Linked DNA regions of Homo sapiens: region 2 is linked to region 1. Evidence: fine-mapped expression QTL. Tissue or cell type: unexposed skin. Region 1 holds a variant in brackets; the other region holds the start of a gene. All regions are shown on one strand. Distances are between the middles of the regions.

What was found. PIP is the estimated chance that this variant, and not a neighbour inherited with it, causes the effect.
Region 2: it holds the start of TUBGCP5, and the variant in region 1 is fine-mapped to the expression of TUBGCP5 in unexposed skin (GTEx, PIP 0.96).

The regions. Positions count from the first base shown.
Region 1 is chr15:22,922,955-22,931,060 of GRCh38, reverse strand. CYFIP1 (cytoplasmic FMR1 interacting protein 1) reads left to right here. Exons shown (of 31, transcript NM_014608.6): 12 at 3,033-3,155; 13 at 4,954-5,079. Among named protein-coding and RNA genes, the nearest start is that of CYFIP1, 53 kb to the left of the region's middle. The variant A/G (reference allele first, on the strand shown) is at 4,722.
Region 2 is chr15:23,035,663-23,043,768 of GRCh38, reverse strand. It overlaps TUBGCP5 (tubulin gamma complex component 5), which reads left to right and starts at 4,200. Exons shown (of 23, transcript NM_052903.6): 1 at 4,200-4,371; 2 at 6,617-6,670; 3 at 6,764-6,872. The coding sequence starts at 4,226.

The DNA of each region.
Region 1 (8,106 bases):
CAACCCAGTAGTCCAGGTATGTTGGGGCACCTGCTGCTTCTAACACAGACCCCTGGCAAGCGTTTGGGCATGTCAGACAAGGAGGCTGTCCTGGGTGAGTCAGTGAGTGAGTGGCGAGCGAGTGGGAGGCCTAGGACAGTACTGTGCACTGCTGTGGCCTTTATGAACACTGTGTGCTTAGGCTGTGCTAAATTTTTTAAAAGGCTTTTTCTTTCTTTAATAACGAATTAGCCTTAGCTTACTGTAACTTTTTTACTTTATAAACTTTTTACTTTTAAAAAGAGCTTTTTGGCTTTTGTAACAACACTTTGCTTAAAACACAAACACACTCTATACCTGTGCAAAAATATTTTTTCTTTATCTCCTTATTCTGTAAATTATTTTTCTACCAAAAAGTTTTTGTTTTTTTCCTTTTGAGCTTTTTCGTTAAAAATGAAGACCCAAACACACACATTAGCCTAGGCCTACACGGGGTCAGGATCATCAGGACATCACTAGGCAGTAGGAATTTTTCCACTACGTTAAGATTTTATGGGAGCACCATCATGTGTGTGGTCTTGTTGACTGGAGCATCCTTAGGTGGCATCTGACTGTAATTGTTTCTCTGGCATTGTCTAAGGTAACAAATCAGTTTTTTTCGGAGTACAGTTTTTTTTTTTTTTTTTTTTTTTGGGTGAGACGGAGTCTTGCTGTGTCGCCCAGGCTGGAGTGCAGTGGTGCAATCTCGGCTCACTGCAAGCCAAGGTTCACACCATTCTCCTTCCTCAGCCTCCCGAGTAGCTGGGACTACAGGCACCCACCACTACGCCCGGCTAATTTTTGTGTGTGTGTTTTTTTGTGTTTTTTTTTGTGTGTGTTTTTTGTGTGTTTTTTTAGTAGAGACACTGTTCTAGCCAGGATGGTCTCAATCTCCTGACCTGGTGATCCACCCGTCTCGGCCTCCCAAAGTGCTGGGATTACAGGCATGAGCCACCGCACCCGGCCTCTGAGTACAATTTTAAAGTGATTCGACTTTAGGTTTGTTGATTTTCTTTTTTCTGAAAGCTGAACATCCTGGTGAATGACGCCAGCATAATTTGATTTATGTCATTATGTCATAATCTAGTCTTTTTTTTGTTTGTTTTTGAGGTGGAGTCTTGCTCTGTTGCCCAGGCTGGAGTGCAGTGGCGCGATCTCGGCTCACTGCAAGCTCCGCCTCCCAGGTTCACGCCATTCTCCTGCCTCAGCCTTCTGAGTAGCTGGGACTACAGGCGCCCGCCACCACGCCCGGCTAATTTTTTTGTATTTTTAGTAGAGATGGGGTTTCACTGTGTTAGCCAGGATGGTCTTGATCTCCTGACCTCGTGATCCGCCCGTCTCGGCCTCCCAAAGTGCTGGGATTACAGGCGTGAGCCACCGTGCCTGGCCTTTTTTTTTTTTTTTTTTTTTTGAGACAGAGTCTCTCTCTGTTGCCCAGGCTGGAGTGCAATGGTGTGATCTTGGCTCATTGCAACTTCCACCTCCCGGATTCAAGCAATTCTCCTGCCTCAGCCTCCCAAGTAGCTGGGACTACAGGCGCACGCCACCATGCTTAGCTAATTTTTGTATTTTTAGTAGAGACGGGGTTTCACCATGTTGGCCAGGATGATCTCCATCTCTTGACCTTGTGATTCGCCCACCTCAGCCTCCCAGAGTTTTGGGATTACAGGCATGAGCCATTGCACCCGGTCATAATCTAGTCTTAAAAGAGCAATGCCAGCACTACTAATTACAGTGACTAGAAATTGTTTTATGATTTGTTTTGCAGGTGATTTTGCCCTTGAGCTTCTTACTCAGGGTACTTTTTTTTTTTTTTTTGAGATGGAGTTTCGCTCTTGTTGCCCAGGCTGGATGGCGTGTGATGGCGGGATCTTGGCTCACTGCAATCTTCGCCTCCTGGGTTCTAGCAATTCTCCTGCCTCAGCTTCCCGAGTAGCTGAGATTACAGGCATGCAGCACCACGCCCAGCTACTTTTTTATATTTTTGGTAGAGATGGGGTTTCACTATGTTGGCCAGGCTGATCTCGAACTCCTGACCTCAGGCAATCCACCTGCCCCGGCCTCCCAAAGTGCTGGGATTACAGCATGAGCCATCGCACCGGGCCCCTCACTCAGAGGATTTTAAGTCACACCGTGGTGTTTAGAGCTGCTCAGGGTCCTCTCAGTGGTCATGCTGTGAGCTCCATGCAGGTTCCCGCCATTGTTTCATTTTGCTTTTGACTTCTAGGCATTGCATTTCCGATCTCATTTAATTCTGTGTCCTAAATATATAAAATATTTGTGTGGTTCTAATATCACATCTATAAAAAGGTATATTCAAAGAAGCCTGCCTTCTCCACGGTGCCCCTTCCTCCCCATAGGTCACATGTTTAAATTTAGGGGGTGGTTATTTGATAGAAGCAAACCCACGTGACTTGTGTGTTGCCCTTCCCCGGCCTAGTGGAAGTGCGCCAAGCCCACGCGTGTAACAGCCCCGCGCCCAGCCCGCGGTCCCCCAGGCGGTGGCTGTGGCAGCGGCCTGTCCCTTGCTCTGTGCTCTGCAGCACGCCCTTGGCCGCCATTTTCCCGGGAGGAGGGTCCAGCACCCACAGCATTTCTTATTTTCTTTTTATTTATTTATTTATTTATTTATTTATTTATTTATTTATTTATTATTTTTTGAGACGGAGTCTCGCTCTGTCGCCCAGGCTGGAGTGCAGTGGCGCAGTGTCGGCTCACTGCAAGCTCCGCCTCCCGGGCTCACGCCATTCTCCTGCCTCAGCCTCTGAAGTAGCTGGGACTACAGGTGCCCGCCACCATGCCCAGCTAATTTTTTTGTATTTTTCAGTAGAGACGGGGTTTCACCGTTTTAGGATGGTCTGGATCTCCCGACCTTGTGATCCGCCCGCCTTGGCCTCCTGCATTTCTTATTTTCACACGTGTGACTTTGGGGTGGATTCTCATGGTGGATCCCGGGATGGGGGGAGCTGGGTGGGGGCGCTGGTTTCTCACGGGGCCGTGCCCGCCTTGTGCAGGTGGTCACGGGCTCGGGCCGCCAGGAGGCCCAGAAGACGGACGCGGAGTACCGCAAGCTCTTCGACCTGGCGCTGCAGGGCCTGCAGCTGTTGTCGCAGTGGAGCGCGCACGTGATGGAAGTGGTAGGCCCCGTCCCCGACCCCAGCCCCGCTCCAAAGCTGCCTCGGGCACTTTATTCACATTAACTTTTGGTCTTTGGGCTTTTTATCTTTGGCCCTAGAAAGACGAGAATATCTATCAGTAGATATGTTTCCAAGGTGATTTTAAGTACATCTCATTTATGTGTGTAATAAATGAAGGGCCTCCTTTTTAAAAAAAATCTTGATAGAATTAAATTTGTACCATTGTGATTTTCTTTAAGTCGTTCTTTTTTTGAGATAGTCTCACCCTGTCGCTTAGGCTGGAGTGCGGTGGTGCAAACATAAGTCCCTACAGCCTTGACTCCCCACCCCAAGCGATCCTTCTGCCTCAGCCTCCCAAGTTGCTGGGACCACAGGTGTGCACCACGGCTCCCGGCTAATTTTTTTTTTTTTTTTTTTTTTTTGAGACGGAGTTTCGCTCTTGTTGCCCAGGCTGGAGTGCAATGGCGTGATCTCGGCTCACTGCAACCTCTGCCTCCTGGGTTCAAGCGATTCTCCTGCCTCAGCCTCCTGAGTTAGCTGGGATTACAGGCGCCCACCACCACTTCTGGCTAATTTTTTTGTGTTTTTAGTAGAGATGGTATTTCACCATGTTGGCCACACTGGTCTTGAACTCCTGACCTCAGGTGAACTACCCGCCTCAGTCTCCCAAAGTGCTAGGATTACAGGCTTGAGCCACCGCACCTGGCCTAGTTTTTTGTTTTTTGGTTTTTTTTGTACAGACAGTCTCGCCGTGTGGGCCAGGCTGGTCTCAAACTCCTGGCCTCAAGCCATCTGCCTGCCTGGGCCTTCCAAAGTGCTGGGATTACAGGCGTGAGCCACTGTACCTGGCCAAGTCTCATTTTTTCATTTAAATTTTATTTTGCTTTAAATATTTACTTGTATTGATGCATAATAGGGGTACATAGTTTCAGGATACATGTGATAATTTAATACAGTCATACAGTTTGCAAAGATCTAATTGGTGTGCTTGGGATGTCCATCGCCATAAATATTTGTCCTTATGCCAGAAAAATTCGAGTTCTTCCCTATCTATTCTGAAATGTACCATAAATTATTTTAATTAATAGTCACCCTAACTGATCTATCTAACACTGTCTTATTTCTAATATCAGACTGTACATTTGTACCCATTAATGTCGCTTCACGCCCTGCATTTTTAAGATAACATTTTCTCTTTGGAGCTCCAGCCATCAATGTCTTTTGTTGAACATTAGTAAATTATTTCTGGTGCCATATAAAGATTTGGATACCTGTAAGCAATGAAAGATTTTCCCTTTTGTGATTTATTTTGATCACATAAAAATTATCAAATTGGAAGAGTACATGGTCATTTGAAAGGCAAAATCTTTATTTACTTACTTATTATTTTATTTTTTGTAGAGATGAGGCCTCACTATATTGCTCAGGCTGATCTTGAACTCTTGGGCTCAAGTGATCCTCCTGCCTCAACCTCCCAAGTGCTGGGGTCATAGGCATGAGCCACTGTGCCTGGCCCAGAATCCTTTTTAAAATGATGATGAAATGCCAGAGTCTTAGATACTCAGC[A/G]CTCACTATCCAGGCCATTTTGCCGGGTAGATTTTTTAAACGAGAGGTTACAGGGCCAGGGTCTTTTGCCCATCTGTGGAGATGGACGGTGTGTGCGCCCTCATGTGTGACTTTCAGAATGCAGCAAAGGTTTGAAGGCTGGCCTGGCTTTGGCCACCATCGTGTGAGTCAGACCAGAAGCCAGGCGTTTTGCATGCAATATGGAACACCTCTGCTCTTTCGGCCACCACAGTATTCCTGGAAGCTTGTGCACCCCACCGACAAGTACTCCAACAAGGACTGCCCCGACAGCGCTGAAGAGTACGAGCGTGCCACGCGCTACAACTACACCAGCGAGGAGAAGTTTGCCCTAGTGGAGGTGAGGATGCTCGGCCGCTCGCTCTTCCTCATGTCGCTCTAGCTTCACACCATCTTCTCTGTCAAAAGCAAAAACATGAACAAAACTGCCTGTTTACTCATTGCTTCTGTGTGGGCACCCCTTTCCATCTGGCAGAGTAGTCAGAGTAGAACGCATTAGAGAAACAGTGGTTGTCGGTCCTGGGTCTGCACTGAAGCTCCCTGGGTGCGAATCTGGACTCCTGGACCTGCGTCTGGATGGAGAGCAGTGTCGGGTGCGGGGAAGGGAGGTGAAAGAGATGTGGCCCCTGCTGAGAGAGAAGAGCTGTCTTGCTCTCCTGTGAGGCAGGCGCTGCACTCCCCTCGTGAGCCTTTCCATGGGCAGCTCTTCATTCCAGCATCAACTGGTATCTTTTCTTTCATAGCTGTGCTTTTCCTGTGCTGTTTGAGAAATCTTTGCATACTCTCAGGTCGTGAAGGTATTCTGCATTGCTTTCTGGATACTTCACTCTGCTTTCACACTGAGATGCGAAATTCACCTGAAATTCATTTTTGAAACAATTCCGTCCAACCCTCACGCTGCCACCTTTGTAGCTGGTCACGTGACAATGCATGTGTGGCTGTGTTTCTGCTCTGCTCTAACCCAGTGTCAGTTGCTGTCGGTATCCCAGCACCACTCTGTAGCTTTGTAGTCATCTACCGTGTATGAGAAAGCACGTCTTTCTGTCTCCTAGACTTCCTTGGCTATTCTTCCCCACTGTAGTTTCATATTCATTTTAGAATCAGCTTTTCCCATCCCACAGTGAGGATTTTAATCAGGATATGAACAATCCTATGGATCATGACAGGAGAATTGACAGAAGTCTCATACAGTTGGCCCTCAGTGTTCTTGGGTTCCACCTCCATGAACCAACCTTGGGTCAAAAATGTTCAGAAAGAAAAAATAACACTACAACAGTGAAAAGTAATAAAAATGTTAAAAACCACTGTTTTGGCCTCAGCCTCCTGGACTCAAGCAATCCTCCCACCTCAGCCTCCCCATTAGCTGAAACTATAGGTGCATGCCACCACACCTGGCTAATTTTTATATTTTTGGTAGAGATGGGGTGTCACCAAGTTGCCCGGGTTCGTCTCAAACTCCTGAGCTCAAGCAATCCACCCGCCTCAGCCTCCGAAAGTGCTGGGATTGCAGGTGTGAGCCACTGCGCCCAGCCAAAATTTTCTGATTTTTTGACATAAGGTTTTTCATAGTAAATTCTCATCTTATTTTGGTAGAAGCTTTTTTTTCACATAACCATACAGTTCACCCATTTGAAGTGTAAAAGTCAATGCTTTCAGCACATTCACAGAGTTGTACAGTCACAATCAAATTTAGAACAAATATAAATGCCAGCCCATTATCAGCCACCCTTCATTCTTCCCTCCCTCAACCGTATGCAGCCACCACTCTGCTTTCTGACCCTGTAGATTTGCCTGCTCTGGGCATTTCATATGAGTAGATCATACCATATGTGGCCCTTTGTGACTGGCTTTCACAAAGCATAATTTTCACTTAGCATAATTTTCCTTTTATTTTTCTTAAGATGGAGCCTTGCTCTGTCACCCAGGCTAGAGGGCAGTGGCGTGATCTCAGCTTACTGCAACTTCTCCCTCCCGGGTTCAAGCAATTCTTGTGCCTCAGTCTCCAGAGTAGCTGGGATTACAGGCACCCACCACCACGCCCGGCTAATTTTTGTATTTATAGTAGAGACAAGGTTTCACCATGTTGGCCGGGCTGGTCTCAAACTCCTGACCTCAGGTAATCCGCCTGCCTTGGGCTTCCAAAGTGCCAGGATTACAGGCGTGAGCTACCGTGCCAGGCCACTTAGCATAATTTTCAAGATTCACACAGGTATCACTGTTTTGTTCTGTTTATTGCTGAATAATATTGCATTACATGGATATGTTACATTGTATTTATCCATCCATCAGATGATAGACATTTGGGTTATTTCTACCTTTTCACTACTATGAAGTTGCTGAGAACTTCTTTTTCTTGTTTTTTTTTTTTTTTTTTTTTTTGGAGACAAGGTCTCACTCTGTCACCCAACTGGAGTGCAGTGGCAGGATTATGGCTTATTGCAGCCTCAATCTTCTGGGCTCAGACAATCCTCCCTCCCCAGCCTCCCAAGTAGCTAGGACCACAGGCACAAACCACCATGCCTGACTAATTTTTAAATTTTTTGTAGAGATGGGGTCTCACTGTGTTGCCTAGTCTGGTCTTGAACTCCTGAGCTCAAGTGATCCTCCTGCTTTGACTTCCCAAAGCACTGGGATTAGAGGTGAGCCACCATGCCCAGCCTCTATGAGCTTTCATGTGCGGGTTTTTGTGTAGATGCTGGTTTTCATTTCTTTTGATTGTATAGCTAGAAATGCAATTACTGGATCATAACAGCACATTTAGCTTTTGAGGAACTACCAGATAGTGGCAGCACCATTTCTCCTTCTTACCAGCAGTAAGTGAGGGCTCCAGTTTCCCCACATCCACACCAAACTTGTTATTGTATGTCTTTTTGATTCTAGCTATCCTAGTGGGTGTGAGGTGGTATCTCATTTCATTGCGCTTTTGATTTGCGGTTTTCTAACAACTAAGGATGTTAAACGTCTTCTTATGTGCTTGTTGGCCATTTGTGTGCATTATTTGGAGAAATGTCTCTTCAGATCCTTTGCCCATTTTTAATTAGGTTATCTTTTTTATTATTGAGTTGTAACAGTTCCTTATACATTCTAAATATCAGTTCCTTACAGCCATAGGATTTTCAGTATCTTCTCCCATTCTATGATTGTCCTTTTAGTTTCTTAATGGAGTCTTTTGAGACACAAAGTGTTTGAATTTTGATTATGTTTGATTTATCTGTTTTTCTTTCGTTGCTTATGCTTTTGGTGTCATATATAAGAAATCATTGTGTAACCCAGGTCATGATGATTTACTCCTGTGTTTCCTTCTAAAAGTCTTTTTTTTTTTTCTTTTTTGAGACAGAGTCTTGCTCTGTCACCCAGGCTGGAGTGC
Region 2 (8,106 bases), 110 kb before region 1:
GGCCAGGTGGGGTTATGAAGTTCCCCCCGCCCCCCGGCACCTCCGGCCAGCTGGGGTTATGATGGCCCCACAGCACCTCTGGCCAAGTGGGATTATGACCCCCCCAGCACCTCTGGCCAGGTGGGGTTATAATACCCCCCCACAGCACCTCTGGCCAGGTGAGGTTATGATGTCCCCCCAGCACCTCTGGCCAGGTGTGGTTATGAAGTCCTCCTGGCACCTCTGGCCAGGTGTGATTATGAAGTCCCACTAGCACCTCTGGCCAGGTGGGGTTATGAAATCTCCCCCAGCACCTCTGGCCAGCTGTGGTTATGAAATCCCCCCCAGCACCTCTGGCCTGGTGACATTTATGAAGTCACCCCCAGCACCTCCGGCCAGGTAGGGTTAGGAAGTTCCCCCCGCCCCCCAGCACCTCCGGCCAGGTGGGGTTATGATGTCCCCCCAGCATCTCTGGCCAGGTGGGATTATGATATCCCCCTAGCACCTCTGGCCAGGTGAGGTTATGATGTCCCCCCAGCACCTCTGGCCAGGTTGGGTTATGAAATCCCCCCAGCACCTCTGGCCAGGTGACATTTATGAAGTCACCCCCAGCACCTCTGGCCAGGTGGGGTTATGAAGTTCCCCCCGCCCCCCAGCACCTCTGGCAGGTGGGGTTATGATGTCCCCCCAGCATCTCTGGCCAGGTGGGATTATGATACCCCCCAGCACCTCTGGCCAGGTGAAGTTATGATGTCCCCCCAGCACCTCTGGCCAGGTGGGGTTATGAAGTCCCCCAGGACCTCTGGCCAGGTGGGGTTATGAAGTCCCCCCCAGCACCTCTGGCCAGGTGGGGTTATGAAATCCCCTCCAGCACCTCTGGCCAGGTGACATTTATGAAGTCACCCCTAGCACCTCTGTCCGGGTAGGGTTATGAAATTCCCCCTGCCCCCAGCACCTCCGGCCAGCTGGGGTTATGATGGCCCCACAGCACCTCTGGCCAGGTGGGGTTATGATGTCCCCCCAGCATCTCTGGCCAGGTGGGATTATGATACCCCCCAGCACCTCTGGCCAGGTGAGGTTATGATGTCCCCCAGCACCTCTGGCCAGGTGGGGTTATGAAGTCCTCCCGGCACCTCTGGCCAGGTGTGGTTATGAAGTCCCCCGCAGCACCTCTGGCCAGGTGGGGTTATGAAATCCCCCCCAGCACCTCTGGCCAGGTGACAGTTATGAAGTCACCCCCAGCACCTCTGGCCAGGTGGGGTTATGAAGTTCCCCCCGCCCCCCAGCACCTCCGGCCAAGTGGGGTTATGATGGCCCCAGAGCACCTCTGGCCAGGTGGGATTATGATGTCCCCCAGCACCTCTGGCCAGGTGGGGTTATGATGTCCCCCCTGGCACCTCTGGCCAGGTGGGGTTATGATGTCCCCCAGCACCTCTGGCCAGGTGGGGTTATGAAGTCCCACCGGCACCTCTGGCCAAGTGTGGTTATGACGTCCCCCCCAGCACCTCTGGCCAGGTGGGGATATAATACCCACCCCCAGCACCTCTGGCCAGGTGAGGTTATGATGTCCCCCCGGCACCTCTGGCCAGGTGTGGTTATGATGTCCCCCCGGTACCTCTGGCCAGGTGTGGTTATGAAGTCCCCCCGGCACCTCTGGCCAGGTGGGGTTATGAAGTCCCACCGGCACCTCTGGCCAGGTGTGGTTATGATGCCCCCCCGGCACCTCTGGCCAGGTGTGGTTATGAAGTCCTCCCGGCACCTCTGGCCAGGTGGGGTTATGAAGTCCCCCCGGCACCTCTGGCCAGGTGGGGTTATGAAATCCCCCCCAGCACCTCTCGCCAGGTGACATTTTGAAGTCACCCCCAGCACCTCTGGCCAGGTGGGGTTAAGAAGTTCCCCCCGCCGCCCAGCACCTCTGGCCAGGTGGGGTTATGATGGCCCACCAGGACCTCCTGCCAGCTGGGGTTATGATGGCCCCACAGCACCTCTGTCGAGGTAGGATTATGATACCCCCCAGCACCTCTGGCCAGGTGGGGTTATAATACCCCCCCACAGCACCTCTGGCCAGGTGAGGTTATGATGTCCCCCCAGCACCTCTGGCCAGGTGTGGTTATGAAGTCCTCCTGGCACCTCTGGCCAGGTGTGGTTATGAAGTCCCCCCAGCACCTCTGGCCAGGTGGGGTTATGAAATCTCCCCCAGCACCTATGGCCAGCTGTGGTTATGAAATCCCCCCCAGCACCTCTGGCCAGGTGACATTTATGAAGTCACCACCAGCACCTCTGGCCAGGTGGGGTTATGAAGTTCCCCCCGCCCCCCAGCACCTCCGGCCAGGTGGGGTTATGATGTCCCCCCAGCATCTCTGGCCAGGTGGGATTATGATATCCCCCTAGCACCTCTGGCCAGGTGAGGTTAAGATGTCCCCCCAGCACCTCTGGCCAGGTTGGGTTATGAAATCCCCCCAGCACCTCTGGCCAGGTGACATTTATGAAGTCACCCCCAGCACCTCTGGCCGGGTGGGGTTATGAAGTTCCCCCCGCTCCCCAGCACCTCCGGCCAGCTGGGGTTATGATGGCCCCACAGCACCTCTGGCCAAGTGGGGTTATGATGTCCCCCCAGCATCTCTGGCCAGGTGGGATTATGATACCCCCCAGCACCTCTGGCCAGGTGAGGTTATGATGTCCCCCCAGCACCTCTGGCCAGGTGGGGTTATGAAATCCCCCCCAGCACCTCTGGCCAGGTGACATTTATGAAGTCACCCCCAGCACCTCTGGCCAGGTGGGGTTAAGAAGTTCCCCCCGCCCCCCAGCACCTCCGGCCAGCTGGGGTTATGATGGCCCCACAACACCTCTGGCCAGGTGGGGTTATGATGTCCCCCCAGCATCTCTGGCCAGGTCAGATTATGATACCCCCCAGCACCTCTGGCCAGGTGAGGTTATGATGTCCCCCCAGCACCCCTGGTCAGGTGGGGTTATGAAATCCCCCCCAGCACCTCTGGCCAGGTGACATTTATGAAGTCACCCCCAGCACCTCTGGCCAGGTGGGGTTACGAAGTTCCCCCCGCCCCCCAGCACCTCCGGCCAGGTGGGGTTATGATGGCCCCACAGCACCTCTGGCCAGGTGGGGTTATGATGGCCCCCCAGCATCTCTGGCCAGGTGGGATTATGATACCCCCTAGCACCTCTGGCCAGGTGAGGTTATGATGTCCCCCCAGCACCTCTGGCCAGGTGGGGTTATGAAGTTCCCCCCGCCCCCCGGCACCTCCGGCCAGCTGGGGTTATGATGTCCCCCCAGAATCTCTGGCCAGGTGGGATTATGATATCCCCCTAGCACCTCTGGCCAGGTGAGGTTAAGATGTCCCCCCAGCACCTCTGGCCAGGTTGGGTTATGATGGCCCCACAGCACCTCTGGCCAGGTGGGATTATGATACCCCCTAGCACCTCTGAGCAGGTGAGGTTATGATGTCCCCCCAGCACCTCTGTCCAGGTGTGGTTATGAAGTCCTCCCGGCACCTCTGGCTAGGTGTGGTTATGAAGTCCCCCCAGCACCTCTGGCTAGGTGGGGTTATGAAATCTCCCCCACCACCTCTGGCCAGGTGACATTTATGAAGTTCCCCCCCTCAGCACCTCTGGCCAGGTGGGGTCATGAAGTCCCCCAAGCCGCCCCTGAGGAACAGGCGAGGCAAGGGCCAGCAGGCACTACTAGCGGGTCGGGACAGCTGCTTCGCTGATGCTGGTTGTGTAGCATGGATGTGTGTAGCGTGACTGTGTTGTGTGGATGGGGCACGGAAATCCGCAGAGACCATCACTGGAGGGAGAAGCTGCAGGGCCGGGAGGGTTCAGCAGGTAAGCAGTTCAGGGTTCCTGGAAAGGCGGGTCCCAATGCATTTGCTGACCGGGCACCTAACGGGCTGCTCTCAAAATCACTGACTGTCACCGAGGCCGGCCAGAGACCCTTATGTATCTGATTCACGATGACACCAGCTAACTCTGAGTACAGTAGAAAACGTACCGTCGGGCAACCAGAAAATGCGCACTCCAGTCCCCACCACGGGACAGCGCCAGGCAGTACCCTCCACAGCCGGAGCTCGAACTGTCGCGAGAATAGCGGTCGGCTTGGAAGTCGCCCGGCGCGGGAGCGCGAACTCTCGCGAGAATGCCGCCAGCTCCGGAGGCGACTGCGGCAGGAGCCCGAGCTCTCGCGCGACAGGCACCAATTCGTTAGACGCGCGCTGCAGGAGCGCGGAACATGGCGCGGCACGGGCCACCGTGGAGTCGGTTGGACGCGCAGCAGGAGCGCGACGTGCGGGAGCTCGTCCGGGGTGTCGCCGGCCTCCAGGACGAGGCAGACCCCAACTTCCAGCTCGCCCTAAACTTCGCCTGGTCCAACTTCAGGTGTGGGGCACGGCGCGCGGGCGGGTTCCCGGCCACAGCCCGGAGCCCGCGCGTGGGTCCCGCACAGCCCGGGGTCGGGGCGCGCTGGGGCAGGGCATGGGGCGGAGGCGGGCGCGGCCTCAGGGAGCCTTCGCAGGCCCTGCCACCGCCTGCTCCCCGCCGGCCAGCGCTCTCGGCGCGGTGCCCTGCGCACCACAGGGCGTGTTACCCGGGACGCGTCCTGATCGTCACGGGGAAAGCGTGAACTGGGTTTCTTGCCGGCCGGCGCGCGCGCCTGCAACCCCAGCGCTCTGGGAGGCCCAGGCGGGACTCCAGGCCAGCTTGGGCAACGTAGCAACTCCATGTTTATAATTTTTTTTTTTTTTAAATTAAAGAGATTGTATTCTCACTGACTCCTGCTCCCTGGTCAGCCCAGTGTAAGATCTCTCACCCTGCTCTCCTTTTTCCAAAACGCGTGTCATGACACTGATTTAACCTGTCATTACTGTCTCCTCCACTTCCACTCCAGCTAGAATGCTGCATCTCTGCACAGCTCCTGGCACGTAGCACGCTGAGTCACCTAATACAATTTCTAATGCAGTTTCTCTTGTAACTAATTTTTAAAGACTTACAGAATTTAGATATTTACGTAAAGTGAGATCTCCTATTTTTCTTTATGGGAGATGTAAATTAATACTTTTAGAGTCATTACCCATAATGAAATTATTACTAAAAAAATGTTAATGTTAATATTCTACCTGTTTAATTTCAGTAAAAATCTTCTTGAATAATGAACAGTTTTTCAAAATCCGTAATCTTAGTTACCTTAATGATCATAGCCATAAAGTGTCTAGTTGGCTTATAATAGGAATACGGGGCTTTCAGATTCTTTTAAACCATGCCAAGTTTCTGAAGTAATAAACTGAATTCTTAAGTGTAACTTATAAAAATAAACAATGTGTGAAATAGGTTATACAATACAGAAACTTAAATGCTGAAATCCAAGTTATTTTTCTACTAATATTTCTAAATGACAGTAGGCAGATTGTCATCATTTTAGAGCTGGGAGAGACGTTGGAGGTTACTATTTTCATTCACAGATTTCAGGAACTAAATTATAATAGGTAAAGTGGTGTTCCATTCACCCATTTACTGGCCTAGAATCATGTGTTTTTCAGTAGTGTAATTTTATTTAAGTACAGATTGCTCGCTTTGATACTAAAAAATGGAAAACATTTTTTGCATAGGCTATGCTATGTACATATACATTAGTTGCATAGGCTGTGCTGTAATTTTATGATGCTTTAAACCATCAGAAAAATGAATAGTTCATGTTTACATTCTTGAAAATTGTGGACTGGGCGCGGTGGCTCACGCCTGTAATCCCAGCACTTTAGGAGGCCGAGGTGGGTGGATCACGAGGTCAGGAGATCGAGACTATCCTGGCTAACACGGTGAAACCCGGTCTCTACTAAAAGTACAAAAAATTAGCCGGGCGTGGTGGCAGGCGCCTGTAGTCCCAGCTACTTGGGAGGCTGAGGCAGGAGAATGGCGCGAACCCAGGAGGCGGAGCTTGCACTGAGCAAGCTCACTTTTCTCTAACTGAAAAGTAGCATCTCCTTCTATTATGAATGAAGGCAGCAAACCATAGCAGTATTAGCCTACCTATGACTTTATCACCAGTAGAAATCGCATACTGTTTTCACATCAGAGTTGTAGATATTTGTAAATGTTGTTTACTGTTACTTTAATGGTAGTTAATTGGACCTACTGCTAAATCTTGTTATTTAATACTTTCATAAATAACATTTCTTGCCATATCTTAAACTTCTTTAAATATTTGACAACTGTATCTCAGTATAATGGGATTCCTTTGTATTTATTTTTTGGCTTTAAAAATGTTATTCAGAGAAGGGGTCCTTAGGCTTCACCGGGCCTCACTATGGCATAAAAAGGTTGGGACCACCTGATGTAGAATGTGTTCAGCTGGACTTAGGTACAGGGGCTTATGGGAAGACAGAGGAGCCAGAGGACAAGGTTGGGAGGGTCAGGAAGAACCTGTGTGCTGGAGAAAGGATGCTTGCACAGTCTCGGACACGGTGATTATTTGCCTGCCTGATGGTGGAGGTAACGGAGGACAAGGTACACTCCATTCTGGAAATGTGTAGCTGAGTACAGAGCATATGGGGGATATGGAGGGCCATGAGATGAGTTCACTTACCTGTGTGACAGAGTTGGCATAAGAATTGCATTTTGTCTTTAATAGATTTCATCGTTTCTTGGATGTCAACAGCCACAAAATAGAAAAAACAATCGAAGGGTAAGTCAGTGTGTATATATACGCATCCAGAAATATATGTATTTTCTTATAGATCTTTTTAAGATAGCTTTATAATCTTTTCTTATATTTTAGAATTTATGAAAAATTTGTCATTCATTCTGATCTAAGCAAAGCTGCTAGTTGGAAGAGATTAACGGAGGAATTTCTAAATGCACCACTTCCCAGTATAAAGGAAATAAAGGTATGCCTTCAATTATGAGATCTCCACTGTGTATTTTACTGTTTCCTATCTGATTATCGTCAATTTGTTTCAGTTACTGTTTAAACATTCTATTTTAGTATTATCTACTGGCTAACGGGATCTCTTGGAAATTTACTTAAATATTGCCATCAAACCAGATATGCCTCAGTTTGTGATGAAAGAAAGAGCTTGTTTTTAATCATTTTTTCACCTCAGTCCTACTAAGGAAAGAGAGATCAGAGATTGATACAAATAGTAGCATTGTTTGGGTATCTCAAAACTTTCAAATGGTTTCTCAGCACTTGGCAGTGACTGTCTGTAGATGCTTACTAGATGCCTGGTATACTTTCATATTGTTTGGGGGATTCCCCAAGACCACCTTTTGGCATAATGATTTGCTCAAAGGATTCACAGAACTTAAAAAAAAAAAGCTGTTATCCTCACTGTTAATAGTTTATTACAGTGAAAGGATACAGATTAAAATCACCAAAGGGAAAAGGTGCTTAGAGCAAAGTCTAGGAGAAGCTAGGCACGCATGTCCAAATGTTCCTTCCTAGTGGAGTCACCTGGGGATGCAGTTAATTCTCTCAGTAACAGTATATGACAACATGTGCAAAGTATTACCCTCCACTCCCCCCAGGGCCACTCGGCTGAGCCTTGGTGACCAGCATTTTTATTGGGGGTGGGTCACATAAGCAAGCAGAGCCCACATGGCTGACCTTAGCTGCTGAGTCTGTAGCCCCCTAGAGGTCAAACCAAGGATGGCAAGCGTATGGAAACAGCTGTGGGTTCCCTGAACACGGTGGGACCACATTCCCTAGCTCTGCTGTGACACATCTTGTGCCTACATAGTTCTTTCCCTTTCTCCTGCCTGAGGAAGCTCACGTTTTAATATTAAACTCAGGCACTGTCTCCACACATGCTATGTATTTCAATTCTTTATAGTTCCTTTCTTGTCTCCCCCTTTAAAAGGCACATTTTACAGGCATAGGGCTCTGTGTCTGATTTGTTCCCGGACACCTAGAGCACAGTGGACAGTGCATGTTTGTTGAGGGAATCAGTAAGGCTGTGCAGTCTTGTCTGCTTCACTATCCCCTCTGTGTCCACAGCCCCCACCCACTTACACAAGGTGGGATTGGTTATCCTTTTCTCTTGCTGTGTGGCATCTTGGATGTGTTTGTTATGGCAGAGGTCCCCAACCCCCACATGGTGGACGAGTACCAATATGTGCCTG